Linked DNA regions of Homo sapiens. The protein of the gene in region 1 purifies or fractionates together with the protein of each later gene. This does not show direct contact. Each region holds a gene or a part of one and is shown in the gene's direction. Other genes may lie near its edges.

The links.
Region 2: the proteins of AMMECR1 (region 1) and PPIL4 purify together in Homo sapiens (affinity purification with mass spectrometry; 2 studies listed by BioGRID and IntAct, with this or other methods). This does not show direct contact.

The regions. Positions count from the first base shown.
Region 1 is NC_000023.11:110,314,750-110,323,276, reverse strand, and holds the start of AMMECR1 (nuclear protein AMMECR1), read left to right. Parts: upstream 1-5,191; 5' UTR 5,192-5,205; coding exon 5,206-5,678; intron 5,679-8,527.
Region 2 is NC_000006.12:149,528,878-149,536,468, reverse strand, and holds part of PPIL4 (peptidyl-prolyl cis-trans isomerase-like 4), read left to right. Parts: intron 1-730; coding exon 731-873; intron 874-1,694; coding exon 1,695-1,791; intron 1,792-2,894; coding exon 2,895-3,011; intron 3,012-7,591. UniProt on the Homo sapiens protein: PPIases accelerate the folding of proteins. It catalyzes the cis-trans isomerization of proline imidic peptide bonds in oligopeptides.

The DNA.
Region 1 (8,527 bases):
GGGTGGATGGTATCCTTTGTGAATTATATCTCAATAAAAAGAAGAAAGAAAGAACAAACCAGAGAATTCTGGAGGAAACACAGAGCAGAGTGTAGCATGGGAAATTTCAAGCCCCTTAGAAAAGCTATATGCTACCATGAAGTATCTGCAATAGAAATAGCAGCTTGAGGTTTTAGAAGACCGTCAAGTGGCATGAAAGAAATCTAGAATCCCTTGTGGAATCTTGTGGAAGATGCAGAAGTCAGCTGAGGATTAAGCAGCAGCCTACTTACCAGGCAGTGGCTGTGGCATAAGGTGAACAGCCCCAAAGAAAAGGCTGTAGGGTGGATAGCCAACGTCAGGGGCCAGATGGAGGATCTGGCTGAAGTTTGGAGGGTTAGCTGCACTATTAGGAGCTAGGGTAGGAATCCCGAATAGTAAGTAATGAGAGACGACTGAGCTTCCTGACACAATCATTGTGTATTACTCATGCTGAGAGAATAAGCCATAAATTGTGAACATTTAAGCAGTGAATAGAGTGAGGCAAAATGAGCTACACTTCAAGTGGGATCTAGCAGAGGTTATAGGGATCAGATTTCTGCTCCTCGGTGCCATGAGTGAGTTTGTACTTTACATTGATTATTTGTACAAAAGAGACTTAATTCAGAACAGACTTTTATATTTTAATTGACAATGTTAATCCTCACCCTGCCAAAACTGTGCCTCCAACCAACTGGAATAGGTGCCCCAGAACACAATGAGATTAGTTAAACAGCTATATTTTTATAATTAACTTTTCAGGTGAGGCCAATTGGGTTTCATTATGTACATTTTCAAACCCCAATATATGTACAGAAGCTAGTAGATGAATTCTTCTTTTAAAAAGAGAGAAAAGAGAAAAACAGTCAAGTAAAGACTTTCCCAAACTATAGTAGACACCTTCATGTTTTGATTGTTCACAACTCCTCTAACTGCCCCAAATAACACTCTGTTTGATCATCTTCTTCCTAGAAAGCCTTTTTCTCCAATCTACAACTAGCTAGCTTTATTAATTCTTCCACATTCAGAGTAGATATTAGCATATCTAAATCTCATTAAGGAGTTTATAGAACTTTCTCTAAAGGAAATAGGTAGCAAAACAACATTCAATTAGTTTGTACTCAAGTTGACAATAGAAGATGTAAATGAAACAACTAGAAAACAATCCAAGGTAGATCATGGTGCTTTTGCTCATAAATGTGTTCATTAGATAAAGAAAGAATTTTGGAAGGAAGGATCTGTTTTGTAATCAGAAAAACAAAAACTGATTTACGAATTTGAATTGAAAAGTAGGTAAAGAATTTCAGTATTTACTCACGTATTCATTCAAATATAAAAGGGAACTGATTACCACCTCCACCACAACAACCATGTGTTATACGTGTACAAGGTTAGATCAAAGTGGTAGCTAAGAATATTACATTCTGCAGTTGTTCAAGGATGACAGTTGAGAAAGTTTGATGACAGAGGATAAAAATAACACTTGTTTGGGCATAAATGGCAGGTTTTTTTTTCAATGAAATATGTGAATGTTCCTCCTTTTACCCACAACCCCAGAAACCTAAGAAAATAATTTTGCAACATTAAGTTCACCACCTCATCGAATTATAATTATTCTTATTTTCTGAAATGAAAAAATAACTATGTTGTAAACACGAGAACAAATTGAGGCAATGATAATATATTAACTAACTATTGGGTTTAATTCAATTACTAGCTTTGCTGCACAATAAATAATATGCATAACCTCTGTCCAAGTATTTTTTTCCACAGTTGTAAAACAAAGCCTTTGACAGGAGTTAGTTAACAGCAATTTAGAGCTGCCTCTAAATTGCAGAAATAAAAATGCTCACAATTTGAATGTGCTTTGTTGACAAAGAGACTATGGCCTATTTTTTTTTTTTAAGTGGAATCTTCAGCTCCCAGATTGACAGTCAGTTACAAAGAGAGGAAGGCAACTTAAAGTTTCCTCTGGAGGGTATTATCACTGCAGTCCAGTATCAGCAGTGGGTAGAAACCATGTGCTCTATCATATTTTGACCTTTATACTTCAAGTCAAGAGAATCCTGAGCAAGGTCAGTTTTTCTATCCACCCAGTGTGCACTTTGCATAGATGTAAAAAAATTTTTTTCACAGAATTTGTTCTGTGGATTTAGTTTATGTTTGAATGAAATATGTTTCTTTTTATGCTGGTGACTTTACAAGAAAACAAGGCCAGGAGAGGCATTTCCTCAAATGCCTAAAGGAGACATTACCACCATCACCACTACTTGCCAAGCGATTTATAAAGCATCTTGAGGCTCAAGGTTAGTATGGGAGATGAGCCAGGCTCAGGAGAAGTTAACACAAAGATAAAGGTTAGTGTTTTTCCCCCTTTTAGTCAGCCAATACAACAAAGTACTTAGATAATAACCCCTAGCGGTCAGGTAATGATGTATTTTCTGCAATTATCACATTTGTGTTTGTCTATTTTCTTTATGCTAGTGAGGTTTGGAATTGGAATTGAAAATCCTCTAGGGAAAAGCTATTTTTGTAATTCAGCTGGGGTGTCCTTGTCTTTGGGTTTTCCCATTGCATCAGTCCCTTAGCCTGGCAGGATAGCCATGATAGTGCTTTGTCTTTTAGATGAAATGCAGAACTAAGGACATGACTACTGGTGCTTATTAAAGATTCCTTGCTATTTTTCACAAGAGTAGGGGCGTTAGACTCTTGTCTACTGGCCAAATTCTAAATTGGGAGATTACATTCTGCTTTCCTAAATTCCCCTAGCAGAAGCAGCCATCCATGGTATCCTACTTTGCTTCCTGTGCTAAACTGTTTTGTGATGTCATTAAATGGCTCTGGTTTTTTACTCTAGAAATGATCACTTTAGTGGGGTGGGGAGTAAATCGATACCTATTGTCTGATATTATGTTCAGTCTAGTTTCAAAAAAATTAAAAGGTAGCCTGTGGTAGTTAAGGACAAAGTACAAAACAAAACACCCTAACGTACAAAACACCCTAACATACCAGTTGTTGTGGTGCTTTTTAAAAAAACCAATCTGCTTTCTCTTCTGTAACATAGACAAAATATTAATGCATTTTTTTACTCCACTAGTAATTGACAAAGAATTGTTATTTGTTTCATACTTAAGGTTAATTCTAACAGTGATGAAGTTTGAGAGGATGAAATTACATATCACCGACCAATTAAACTATCCCTTTTGTCTTTAGGCTGCATCTAACCATTCCAGATTTTCATCTATCTATCTCATAAAATCTTTTTGGAAGGAGATTTTTCATCTTTCCTTGGTAACATATTTCAGTGTCTCTCAATCTTTCCATAAAAACTAAGTTCTTATTTCTGTTTAACCTCGGTTCCACCTGCTGGAGTGTAATGTCACTATCTTTTGTCCATCCTTAGCCTTGTTATCATATATTGTTAGTGAGAGGCAATGTAGTATAATGGCATGGTTTTTGGAATCAGACATGCCAGCATTCCAATCCTAGCTCTGTTACTTTCTAGGTGTGTGATGTTGGGCAAATTACTTCTGAGGTTTAATAGCCTCATCTGTTAATGAGTAACCTCAGAGCATTGTTGTGAAGATAAAACGAGATAGTATCTTATTCTGAAGGATTATGGGGTAGGACGAGGTATGGTATTGGAGACCTAAAAAGTGTTCAATACATACTATAATAGCTATTTATCTGATTATGTGCATGTATCTGACTTAATTCATAAACTCTTTTAGAGCGGGAGGCATACTTCCTGAGTACGCCCTGGATTTCAACAGAAGTATAGTGTTGTGCACATAGTATGGTGCAGAGGCTCAATATTACTGAATGAATAAATTGTTTTGTTTTTATTCCCTGAGTGGAATGAACAGCCCCCAGCTATCTGCAAGATCCCACGCATGTAGAAAAAAGGTGACAAAAATCAATCTGCAGTTTTTAAATATGCAGATACCTGACTTTATCTAGATGTTTTAGCATGGTGTAGATACAATGCAAATAACTTACGCTTTCTATTTCTATCACGTTCATTTCTACGAATTTTAACATTTGATTATTGTCATTATTTTTATTATTAAGCTGCACTTAGGCACCCAGAAAGGGACTGACTCATATGTCTCCTCATCCATCCAAGCATTTAATTGAGAAATTTTAAAAATGAATATTAAGAGCTAATTATATACTTGAACAAAATCTTTCAATTTGTGACTAAGTACATTACCTTCCCTATTTATCTCTAAGATCTGAGCACTACAGATAATATTCCTAATTGCTTTGTACCCAAGCCAAGAAATAAAAACCAAAACCAGAAAAGTCCACCACTGCAAGTCCCAAAGCACAATTAGTATCTTTGAACCAGTGAAGTATTAGTTAGGACTTTATTTTTGGCTTTTAAATGTTTAAACGGGGCAAGGAGGGTAAGTTGGGGGAACAAGTACAAGATACATAGATTCAGTCGGACTTGAATATTTCTCCATAAGGAAAGGAAAGAGTACCCTGGTGTGTGCTTAGGCTGGAATTAAAAAGACAGCAGCGTGGCCATTTCCTGGATTGCTTTGTACACACTTTACAGGGGCGGTCTCAGGTATGGAGCTCTGGGCACCTGCTCGCTCACACTCCAACAGTTCAGAAACCCGTGTATTTGAGGCCGGGTGGCTCAGGTTCCACGTAACTGGGCTTAAGTGTCATTAATACTGCTTGCGGCGGGGGGTTACTGAGCTGTGCTTTGGGACCTGGATGCTTACTTCGGACTTTCTCCTTTCTTCCCCCCTACCCCCACTAGTTTCCCTTTCCCTCCTTCCTTCCCGGGCGTGCCCACCTTCTCCCTTTGCTCCCACTTTCCGCTGTCTGACTCTTGTTTCCTTCACCTTCCTTTCTAATCGGCTTCCTGTCTTCCAACCTCTGCCGGCCGGAGAGATTGAGATTGGGGCTGGGGCTGGGGCTGCGGCTCAGAAGAGGCACGAGTCGGGCGGGACAGGCGCGAGGCGCCCAGCCGCGAAAGCGAGGAGCGCGCACCGAGGCGGGGGCGCGCGCGGGGCAGCCGCGTGGCTAGGCAGACGGGGCCGGGAGCGGCGCGCGCGCGCCCCGCCAGCCTCTGGCGCGCCCCCGGCGGCCTGAGCCGCAGCGTGCTCGCCCCCGCCGCCAGCTCGCCTCACTTATGGGTCGGAAACGCTGCGTGGGGGAGACTGTTCCAAGATGGCGGCGGGTTGCTGCGGGGTGAAGAAGCAGAAACTGTCCAGTTCGCCCCCCTCTGGCTCGGGTGGCGGTGGTGGCGCCTCCTCCTCCTCCCACTGCAGCGGAGAGAGCCAGTGCCGAGCTGGGGAGCTGGGACTAGGAGGCGCCGGTACGCGGCTCAACGGGCTGGGAGGTCTAACCGGAGGAGGTAGCGGCAGCGGCTGTACCCTCTCTCCCCCCCAGGGCTGCGGCGGCGGCGGCGGGGGGATCGCCCTGTCGCCACCTCCGAGCTGCGGAGTGGGGACCCTACTTTCTACCCCGGCCGCCGCCACCTCTTCCTCACCCTCCTCATCGTCCGCCGCCTCGTCCTCATCGCCGGGCTCCCGGAAGATGGTGGTGTCAGCAGAGATGTGCTGCTTTTGCTTCGATGTGCTCTACTGTCACCTGTATGGATACCAGCAGCCCCGGACCCCCCGATTCACCAACGAGCCCTAGTGAGTACCGTGCCCTCCGCCGCCCTCTCCCTTGCGCTCGGGATGGGGCTCAGAGTTGAGGCAAAGTGCGAGTCCGCCTCCCGGCCGGCGGATGCCCCTGCCCTCTCGCTGCCCGGGTCCCCGGAGCTACTCAACTGAACTAAGGGCACCCTGCGCTTTTTGCCCTCCGAGGCAGGCACCCCACACTTGGAGCAGGGTGCTGCTGCAAGGAATGGCCCCGTGGCTCCTAGAGGTGTTAGCTTTCTCTTTGCGATGACTTCGAGGAGTTTTGACTCCTTTACTTGTCTCCTTCACCACCCCCACCACCCCTCACCCTGCCCCGGTTTTGGAGATCTGGGTTACTCAAGGTGTTGACCTCTCCTCACTTTGGTTTCCATTACCCCAAGTGAAAGCCCCGCCAGTATTCCCGCCCCGCGTATCTTGCACATGGAGAACTACTATCCCATTGCAGGATGAAAAATAGCAACTATCCAACTTCTGTTAGTGATGGAACTTAGCTCTGGAGCTTGTGAGGTTACCCATCTTCTCCTCTGGGTTTTCTTGTGCCCTGGGAAGGGGGGAGGTTTCTTAAAACACATTTTTCCCTTACTACTTATTTTTATCCAAATACACCCATTAAAATGTGTTTCTCGTGTAGCGAGCGCACTGCCGGCTTCCTCACATTTGAAGAGTGCGACCTTTTTTTTTTTTTTTTCCATTCCACCGTCTGGATAATAGCTCATTCAAAGAGAACTGTCCCCACAGAGCCACGGTCAGTTTGTACATTAAGCGTGCATTCGCTTTTGTGTCGATTTCACTTTTTAAGAAATCCATGTTATACTTGATGATTTGAGAACAGTTAAATAGTAAATGTGTAGGAATTGTTATGGTTTCCTTTGGTTTTGTATCTTAAATTATTTTACCCTTCAAGTGTGTGGTTGAAAAATTTTAAAATAGCACTGTTACAGCTAAAAGCCAGGTTAATTCTAATCCCTGTCCATTTGGATGTGTGGGAGGTGGGGCATATGGTTTTTTTTTTTTAATGTGTAAACTGAATGTAAACTGACTTTTTGCGTTAAATGCTAGACAGAATGTAAAGACCAAGAGAGGGCAGAATGAGAAAAAGTGCAATTGCTTTTATTTGAGTACTTAGCATCAACAAGAAAAATAATACAGAAAAAATTTCAGTGAAACTCGTACTGAAAGGCATCAGCCCCTTTTCCAGCTAAGACAAGTGCCCCTTGTCCCCCATATCATAAATACCTGAATTGATGTTCTTTTAAAACTGCTCCTTTTCATTTTGTGAGATTAGAGGATTGGACTACTGTTGTATAAGTATAAACATTTCTGCCTAGACTAAAATATTAAATTAATATGTAAAGTGGAAATTACAATAAAGTGTCCTGGAAATTGTGCATTTGTACTGTTTGTTTTCTTTGGCTTTCATTCTTTAAATGTCTTTAATTTTGTATGACTCTTCTGTGGTCTGTGCATTTTCTTTTAGACTTGGTTAATCTTTGGGCATTGGTTTATGAGAAGTGCATGAAAGAGCATCCAGGAGAACACTTCGTCAAATAAATATCTTTATAAATTTCATAGTGTTAATTCTAGAAGCTTAAATCCTAAGTCCACACTTTTATTTAGCCAATTCATTTTTTTGGTTAAGAAGTAAAATTCATTTTGAAAAGACTGCCATGTAAAATAAATCTATGAAATATTTATTAGCTTGAGTCACTTATTTGTGACTTTTATGCCTTCTCTTGGATGTCTGTGATGTATTAAAGCTAGTCCTGGGATGATACTTAGGTTGGCTCTGCAAAGTCATGGGACTGCAAAAATTCACTCCTGTTTAGTTCTTGAGCTGTTAACATGAGTTTGGCAAAGGCTGCTTTAGTATTCACGCTCCATTGCTCCAAAGCATATGAGAACACACTTTCAGGAGGTGCTATTTTCACACATTTTACAGTGAGTTTGGGTTAACTCAATGACTATAACAAGAATTTTAAAAGGAAAGTGAGCTTGACCAGTTCATACAGAAAATGCTTTTGAAAATATCATTTTAACAGTAGCCACTTTGCACACGTATTTAGATATTATTCTATTCAAACACCCCAGCCCCTGGATTTCTTTTTCATGGAATTAAGCAGATGATAGGACACACTTTGACCACTGTGGATATGTTGAAACGGTGGTGGAAGAATAATAACTATTATCATCTAGCAGACCTTGAATGTGTCATGTATTCTATAAAACAACTAATGTAGAGTAGACACTAAACATGACCAAGTGGAGAATGAAAGTTCACTTAAGTGGAAAATGGACTGTCTTATTTCCATTTATCTTCAACTCATTTTTGAGGTGTACTGTGGAAAATTCAGGAAAACTTCCTGATTATGGGAGGGACATAACTAAGCATTTCAACAGTGCCTTAGTAACTACCACACATTTGTCTTTCTGTTTTACATATTTAACAGCATTGTGTACTTATTAGTGTTGCTTTATCCTAAGTGCCATAAGACATAAACAGACATATTGGGATTTTTTTTTCTCATAGTTATTATCATGTCATGAGCAGTGTGTTTCAGGTCATGTCTCTGCCCACCAGATGTTGTGCTTTTGACAGTTTTAACTTCTCATACGTAAACGCACACTCTTTTCATCCTTTCCCAGGACTTTTCTCTCAGAATGTCTGTAACTGGTGAAATCCTCGTTTTATGGGTTTAGAAGCTGTAGATCCATCAGTTAGTTATCCTTCCACTCAGTATTGAGGGGATGTCAATATATGAACAAGCTGTATGGATACAAATTCTTCACTGTTGCCCCCATGTTTTGATTACCTACCCAATTGCAGAAAGCATTGTACAGGCAAG
Region 2 (7,591 bases), on another chromosome or scaffold:
TTTAAGAACTTTTCCTTTGCATTTACAACTCAGCTATTGTTTGGTACTAGAGGCCTAGCTTTCCGCTTATCTTGGCTTTCAACGTGCCTTTCTCACTATGCTTAATCATTTTTAGCTTTTGATTTAAAGTAAGAGATGTGCCATTCTTCCTTTTACTTGAACACTTAAGAGTCTCTTGTAGGGTTAATTGGCCTCATTTCAGTATTGTGTCTCGGGGAATAGGGAGCACTGAGAGGGAGAAAGATGGGAATGGCTGGTTGGTGGAGTAGTCAGAACACATACAACATTTATGGATTAAGTTCACCATCTTATATGGGCACAGTTTGTGGTGCCCCAAAACAATTGCGGTAGTAAGATCAAAGATTATAGATGGTAATAACAGATACAATAGTAATGAAAAAGTTTGAAATCTTGTGAGAATCACCAAAATGTGAGCCAGAAACATGAAGTGAGCCTATGCTGTTGGGAAAATGGCACCAATAGACTTACTCAATACACGGTTGCCAGAAATCCTTAATTGTAAAAAATGCAGTATCTGCAAAGTGCAATAAAATGAGGTATGCCAGTATAAGCTTTGTACTTTTTACTTAGTTTTGGTAACAAGTGTCTAAGAATTGGTGCAGTAAATGTGGACTCTTAACTTTCATGTATTTTTTTGTCAGTCTGTAACTGATTTCAGTTTGAGTTATGTATTATTTTTATGGTATTTATTATGTGTCCTTCTTTATAGTTTCTTATCACCACAGGAGAAAATCTAGATTATCTTGATGGTGTCCATACGGTGTTTGGTGAGGTGACAGAAGGCATGGACATAATTAAGAAAATTAATGAGACCTTTGTTGACAAGGACTTTGTACCATATCAGGATATCAGGTATGGTTACAATTTGCTATCTGAATGTACTAGAATGTTTTAATATTGAGATGTTTAACACGTAGTGGTATGGATAGGAACGGTATGCATAGGACTGGTTTCTGGATAATTCTAATCCCAAAAGGTGAATTAATATAAGACTGTAAGAATCTTTATAATAAAAAGGACTTTTTGTATTTTTATACTTGTACTAATTATTTATAATTATGTTTGGAGGAATTATTTATTTATTTATTTTTTGAGACGGAGTCTCATGCTGTTGCCCAGGCTGGAGTGCAGTGGCGCGATCTTGGCTCACTGCAAGCTCTGTCTCCCGGGTTCACACCATTCTCCTGCCTTAGCCTCCCAAGTAGCTAGGACTACAGGCGCCCGCCACCACACCTGGCTAATTTTTTGTATTTTTAGTAGAGACGGGGTTTCACCATGTTAGCCAGGATGGTCACGATCTCCTGACCTCATGATCCACCCACCTCAGCCTCCTGAAGTGTTGGGATTACAGGAATGAGCCACTGCACCCAGCTGGAGGAATTGTTAATGCTTTAATTTAGTTTTTTAATTGAGAAGTAGGGCAAAAGTACTAAGATTTAGACAGTTATATTAGTTTACATCTTAAAGTAATGCAGGGTGATAAATATGGTATCACTCAATGCAAAACAGTAACACTCATTGTGAAAGTATATCTAGGTTAGTAATATCCATATGCAATATGGGTTTTTTTTGGCCTTAGAGATAATCAAGTAATTTTTTGTAATCTATTAAAATAAAATAGGATTCTGAAATAACTTCAATGTATAACATTTGATTTGGATTTATTTTGTAAGGATAAATCATACGGTGATTTTAGATGATCCATTTGATGACCCTCCTGATTTATTAATCCCTGATCGATCACCAGAACCTACAAGGGAACAATTAGATGTAAGTAAAGCCCTCTTATGATTAAATGTACATTCATATTAATGATTTGTATGGATTTATCTTTTTCATCTGTTAAAGTTAATTTTTTCCGAATTATTATCTTGCTTAATTATATTCAACAAGTTTGGAGTTCTTTTTCTTTTCCACAGAGGTACTCATTTTTCTAGCTGTCTTCTCATTTCTCTAATTTCCTTTCTTCAGTTTCTTTTCTACTGAGACAACCTCAGCTCTAGAAGCTTACATGAACACCTTGGGAAAGTGTTTTTCTTGTCATCAAATTAAACTGTTATCTTGTGAGGTAACTTTTCAACTGGGGACACTCTGGAGCCAGGCTAGAACCCAGAAATTTCTGTGAAACAGCGCAGACTGTTCCCCCACATATTTTAAGGTTTATGTGGCTTCCTGAAAGCTGAATTTGTCTTTATGGTTGGGATTGGTGCTTAATTGTCAGATCATTTCTCTTCATTCAGCAGTTAGAATTGGATAATAAATAGTGTCCATATAAATATTTATTTATTTTTTTGAGATGGAGTCTCACTTTGTTGCCTAGGCTGGAGTGCGTGGTGGGATCTCGGCTCATTGTGGCCTCTGCCTTCCTCATTCAAGCAATTCTCGTGCCTCAGCCTCTTGAGTTGCTGGGATTGTAGGTGCATGCCACCACGCCCAGCTAATTTTTGTATTTTTAGTAGAGACAGGGTTTCACTGTGTTGGCCAGGCTGGTCTCGAACTCCTGACCTCAAGTGATCCACCTGCGTGTTCTCCCAAAGTGCTGGGATTACAGGCACGAGCCACCATGCCTGGCCTATTTTGATTTTAACAGAAGCCCACTTTGGCTAATATTTTAGAATTAATATAAATCAATTCTTGGAGGTTTATAAGTTTGTCTCAGTTGCTGTCCAATTAATTATTAAAAATTTTTTTTTAGAGACAAGATCTCACTGTGTCACCCAGCTGGAGTGCAGTGGTGTGATTGTAGCTCACTGCAACCTTGATCAGTTACTGTTTTAGCATGTTTGATATAACTAAGAATAAAGTATGTCTTCTATGTTTCTCAGATTTTTTTATTCTTTAAATATATACATGAGTAACTTCTGTCTTAACAGAGTGGTCGAATAGGAGCAGATGAAGAAATTGATGATTTCAAAGGAAGATCAGCTGAGGAAGTAGAAGAAATAAAGGCAGAAAAAGAGGCTAAAACTCAGGCTATACTTTTGGAGATGGTAAGATAATTATCTTTGTTCAAATTGTTCTGTAATATATCTAATAATACTTACTGAGTGTTTATTTCTGGCTCTTCAGTAGTCTTAAAATGTTAAAAATTGAGTTATGATTTTTTTCTGATTTAAATTTGGTATGGCATAGTAATAAATTGGCTCTACTGTGAAAATAAATTTGACTCTACTGTCAATATAGTGCTAAGTGCCTTTTTAAACAGTGGGAAGTGGATCTCTAACTTATTAATTGAATTTCAGTTGTTTAATATTCATCTCATTCTTAAAGAGTGTTTAGCAGGCTGAATTTTATGTATATTAAAGAATAGTTCTTCACTGTACCACTCAAGTGTTAAGATTAAACAGAATGGTAGTTGTAGGGCAAAATAATGGGTGGAAACTGAGCACTCTAAAATATACTGCTTCTCTGTATTACTAACAACCTGAAGTCATTTGGGGAATAATAATTCAGTAGATGATTAATTGACCTACTTGGTATTATTTTCCATTTCTTATTTTTGTAGAATAGGCATACCTGTCATATCATAGATAATAAATATTGGAATGAATGGATAATAAAGTTACTATTTTATATAATAGAACTTTCAGATTTGTAGTCTGTTTTAAAGTTTATTTATTTATTATTTTATAGAGACAGGGTCTCACTCTGTTGTTCAGGCTGGAGTACAGTGGTGTATGATCATAGCTTGCTGCAGCTTCCAACTCCTCAGCTTAAGCAATGCCCTTGCCTCAGCCTCCTGAGTTGCTGAGACCACAGTCACACACCACAATGCCCTGCTAATTTTAAAATTTTTTTTGTAGAGACAGGATCTCCCTATGTTGGCCAGGCTTAAGTTTATATTACCATCAACTGTCTGAATGAACAAATAGTAAAGGCTGTATAGTTCAAGAAAGCTTTACTGAAATTAAAAAAATTAATTGAAAATACACATTTTAATGAGCACACTGTGTATCTCAGAGTATTGACTCTGAACACCCAACACCAAGACAAATTCTAAGAGAATTACTACACTTGAAAGATATGTTGAACAATTGGGCAGAAAGAATAAGTTACTTATAAGGGAATGAATTTAGATTGTTATCAGACTTTTCCACAGCAACACTTTGGAAGTTTATGCCAGAAGAAAATAGATTAACATACTTTTTAAAACTTTTTGTTTTCAGATAATTTCAAATTTATGGGAAAAAGTACATAGAACTTCTATATACCTTTTACCCACATTCACCAATTTTTAACATTTTGCTACATCTGTTTTATGATTCTCTCTTTTTCTCTCTCTCTGATTATACAAGCACATAAACACACATTTTTTTTCTCGACTATTTGACAGTAAGTTGCCTGTTATTTCCCTTTACCTCTTAATCAGTGTGTATTTCCTAAGAGCAGCAGTATTCAATGTGTATAACAATATGTACGTATTCACAGTGTAGTTACCAAAATCAGAAAATTTAGAAGTGACAGAAATTACAGTTTATAGGGCCGGGCACAGTGGCTCACGCCTGTAATCCCAGCACTTTGGGAGGCCGAGGCGGGTGGATCACGAGGTCAGGAGTTCGAGACCAGCCTGGCCAACATGGTGAAACTCCGTCTCTACTAAAAATACAAAAATTAGCTGGGTATAGAGGCATGCGGCTGTAATCCTAGATACTCAGGAGGCTGAGGCAGGAGAATCGCTTGAACCCAGCAGGCGAAAGTTGCTGTGAGCCGAGATCGCGCCATTGCACTCCGGCCTGGGCAACAGGGCGAGACTCCGTCTCAAAAAAAAGAAAAAAGAAATTACAGTTTATATTCCAATTTTGCCAGTTGTTCTAATAATATCTTTTATAATTGTTTCCTCCTCCAGACTAGAATCCAGCTCGTGACTTATCATCTGTTGCATTTATTTTGTAGAATATTTTCCTTTTTTTTTTTTTGAGACGGAGTTTCTGTTGCCCAGGTTGAAGTGCAATGGCATGATCTCGGCTCACTGCAACCTCCACCTCCCAGGTTCAAGCGATTCAGCTGCCTCAGCTTCCCAAATAGCTGGGATTATAGGTGCCTGCCACCCACGCCTGGCTAATTTTTTTTTTTTTTTTTTTTTTGAGACAGAATCTCGCTCTGTTATCAGGCTGGAGTGCAATGGCACGATCTTGGCTCACTGCAACCTCTGCCTCCCGGGTTCAAGCGATTCTTCTGCCTCAGGCTCCCGAGTAGCTGGGATTACAGGCGCCTGCCACCACATCCAGCTAATTTTTTGTAATTGTAGTAGAGACAGGGTTTCACTGTGTTGCCCAGGCTGGTCTCCAACTCCCGACCTCAGGCGATCCTCCTGCCTTGGCCTCCCAAAGTGCTGGGATTACAGGCATGAGCCACCGTGCCCGGCCAATAGAATATTTTTCAATTTAGGTTTATCTACTCTTTCCTCATGATTAGATTCAGGTTATGCACCCACAGCCGAAATAGTACGTGAGTGATGTTGTGTCCTCAGAGGTCACATCTGGAGGTGTACGATATTCATTGGAAGATGAGTAATTTTGGTCACTTGGTCATGGTAGTCCACTGCCTGGTGTCTCCAATAGACAATCTGTGGCTAGACACTTGGAGATCTTTCAAATGTCTTGTTCCTTGTCAAATTTCCCCCATAAATTTCTCAGCCATTCATGATTCCTGACTGCACCAGTTTTGACTCTGCTAAGTGCAAAGTGGTAATTATGCAAAGTGGTAATTTCCCACCCCCACCACTTTTTCCACAATTACCAACCTGCATTCTACTGTAAGGAAGAGCCCTCCCTTCTTTTTTTTTTTCCGAGATGGAGTCTCGCTCTGTCACCCAGGCTGGAGAGCAATGGCGCAATCTTGGCTCACTGCAACCTCTGCCTCCCAGGTTTAAGCGATTCTCCTGCCTCAGCCTCCTGGGTAGCAGGGATTATAGGTGCCCGCCACCACGCCCAGCTAATTTTTGTATTTTTAGTAGAGACAGGGTTTCACCATGTTGGTCAGGCTTGTCTCAAACTCCTGACCTGGTGATCTGCCTGCCTCGGCCTCCCAAAGTGCTGGGATTACAGGTGTGAGCCACTGTGCCCGCCTGAGCCCTCCCTTCTTAACTGCTTATCTATCCGTTCATTATCCGTGTCTCATGGATTCTTTTTTTGGCTTTGTTTTTAATAGACAATTTGTAGAGCAATTTTAGAATTACAGAAAAACTGAACATAAAGTACAGAGAGTTTCTAAGTACTCCCTCCCTCTTTCCCCCAGTCTTGCATTATTGTGACACATTTGTTAACAATTGATGAGCCAATATTGATACATTATTAATTAAAATCCATGATTTACGTTAGAATTCAAGCTTTGTGTTGTACATTCGGTGGAACTGACAAATGTACGATAGCATATATCTACCCTTACAGGATCATTCAAGGTAGTTTCACTGTCTAAAAAATCCCCTGGGCTCCACCTGTTCATCCCCACCCCCAACACCCACTTCTTGGCAACTACTGATGTTTTTACTGTCTATATAGTTTTGGCATTTTCAAAATGTCATATAGTTGGAATTATAGCGTATGTAGCCTTTTCAGACTGTCTTCTTTCACTTAGCAATATACATTTAAGGTTCCACTGTGCCTTTTTTCTTTCTTCCCTTTCCCTTTCTCCTTTCCCTTTTTCTTTTTCTTTCTTTTCTTTCCCTCCTTTTTTTTTTTTTTTTGAGACGGAGTCTCGCTCTTGTCGTCAGGCTAGAGTACAGTGGCATTATCTCGGCTCACTGCAACCTCTGCCTCCCAGGTTCAAGAGATTCTCCTGCCTCAGCCTCCTGAGTAGCTGGGACTACAGGCACGTGCCACCGCGCCCGGCTAATTATTTTGTATTTTTAGTAGAGACGAGGTTTCACCGTGTTAGCCAGGATGGTCTTGATCTCTTGACCTCGTGATCTGCGCGCCTCAGCCTCCCAAAGTGCTGGGATTACAGCATGAGTCACCCTGCCCGGCCCTTTTTTTAATTTTTTTTAATTTTTTTTTATTTGAGACAGGTTCTCGCTCTGTTGCATGGACAGTGGCACAATAATGGCTCACTGCACCCCGACCTCCAGGGCTCAAGTAATCCTCCTACCTCAGCCTCACAAGTAGCTGGGACCACAGGCGTGTGCCACCATGCCCGGCTAATTTTATTTTTTGTAGAGACAGAGTCTCACTATGTTGCCCGGCCTGGGATTTCATTTCTTTCTTTTTTTTGTTTTTTTTTTTTAGAGAAAGTCTCACTCTTTCACTCAGGCTGGAGTGCAGTGGTGCTGTCATAGCTCACTATAACCTTGAACTGAGGTTGAGCAGTCTTCCTGCCTCAGCCTCTTGAGTAGCTGGGACTATAGGCACACGCCACCACACCTTGGTAATTTTTAAATTTTTTTGTAGAGATGGAGTCTTACCCATGTTGCTCAGGCTGATCCCAAACTCCCAGGTTCAAGTGATCTTCCTGTCTTGGCCTCCCAAAGTGTTGGGATTACAGGCGTGAGCCACCATGCATGGCTGATAGCTCATTTCTTTTAATTGCTAAGTAATGTTTCATTGTATGGATGTATCACAGCTTGTATATTTTT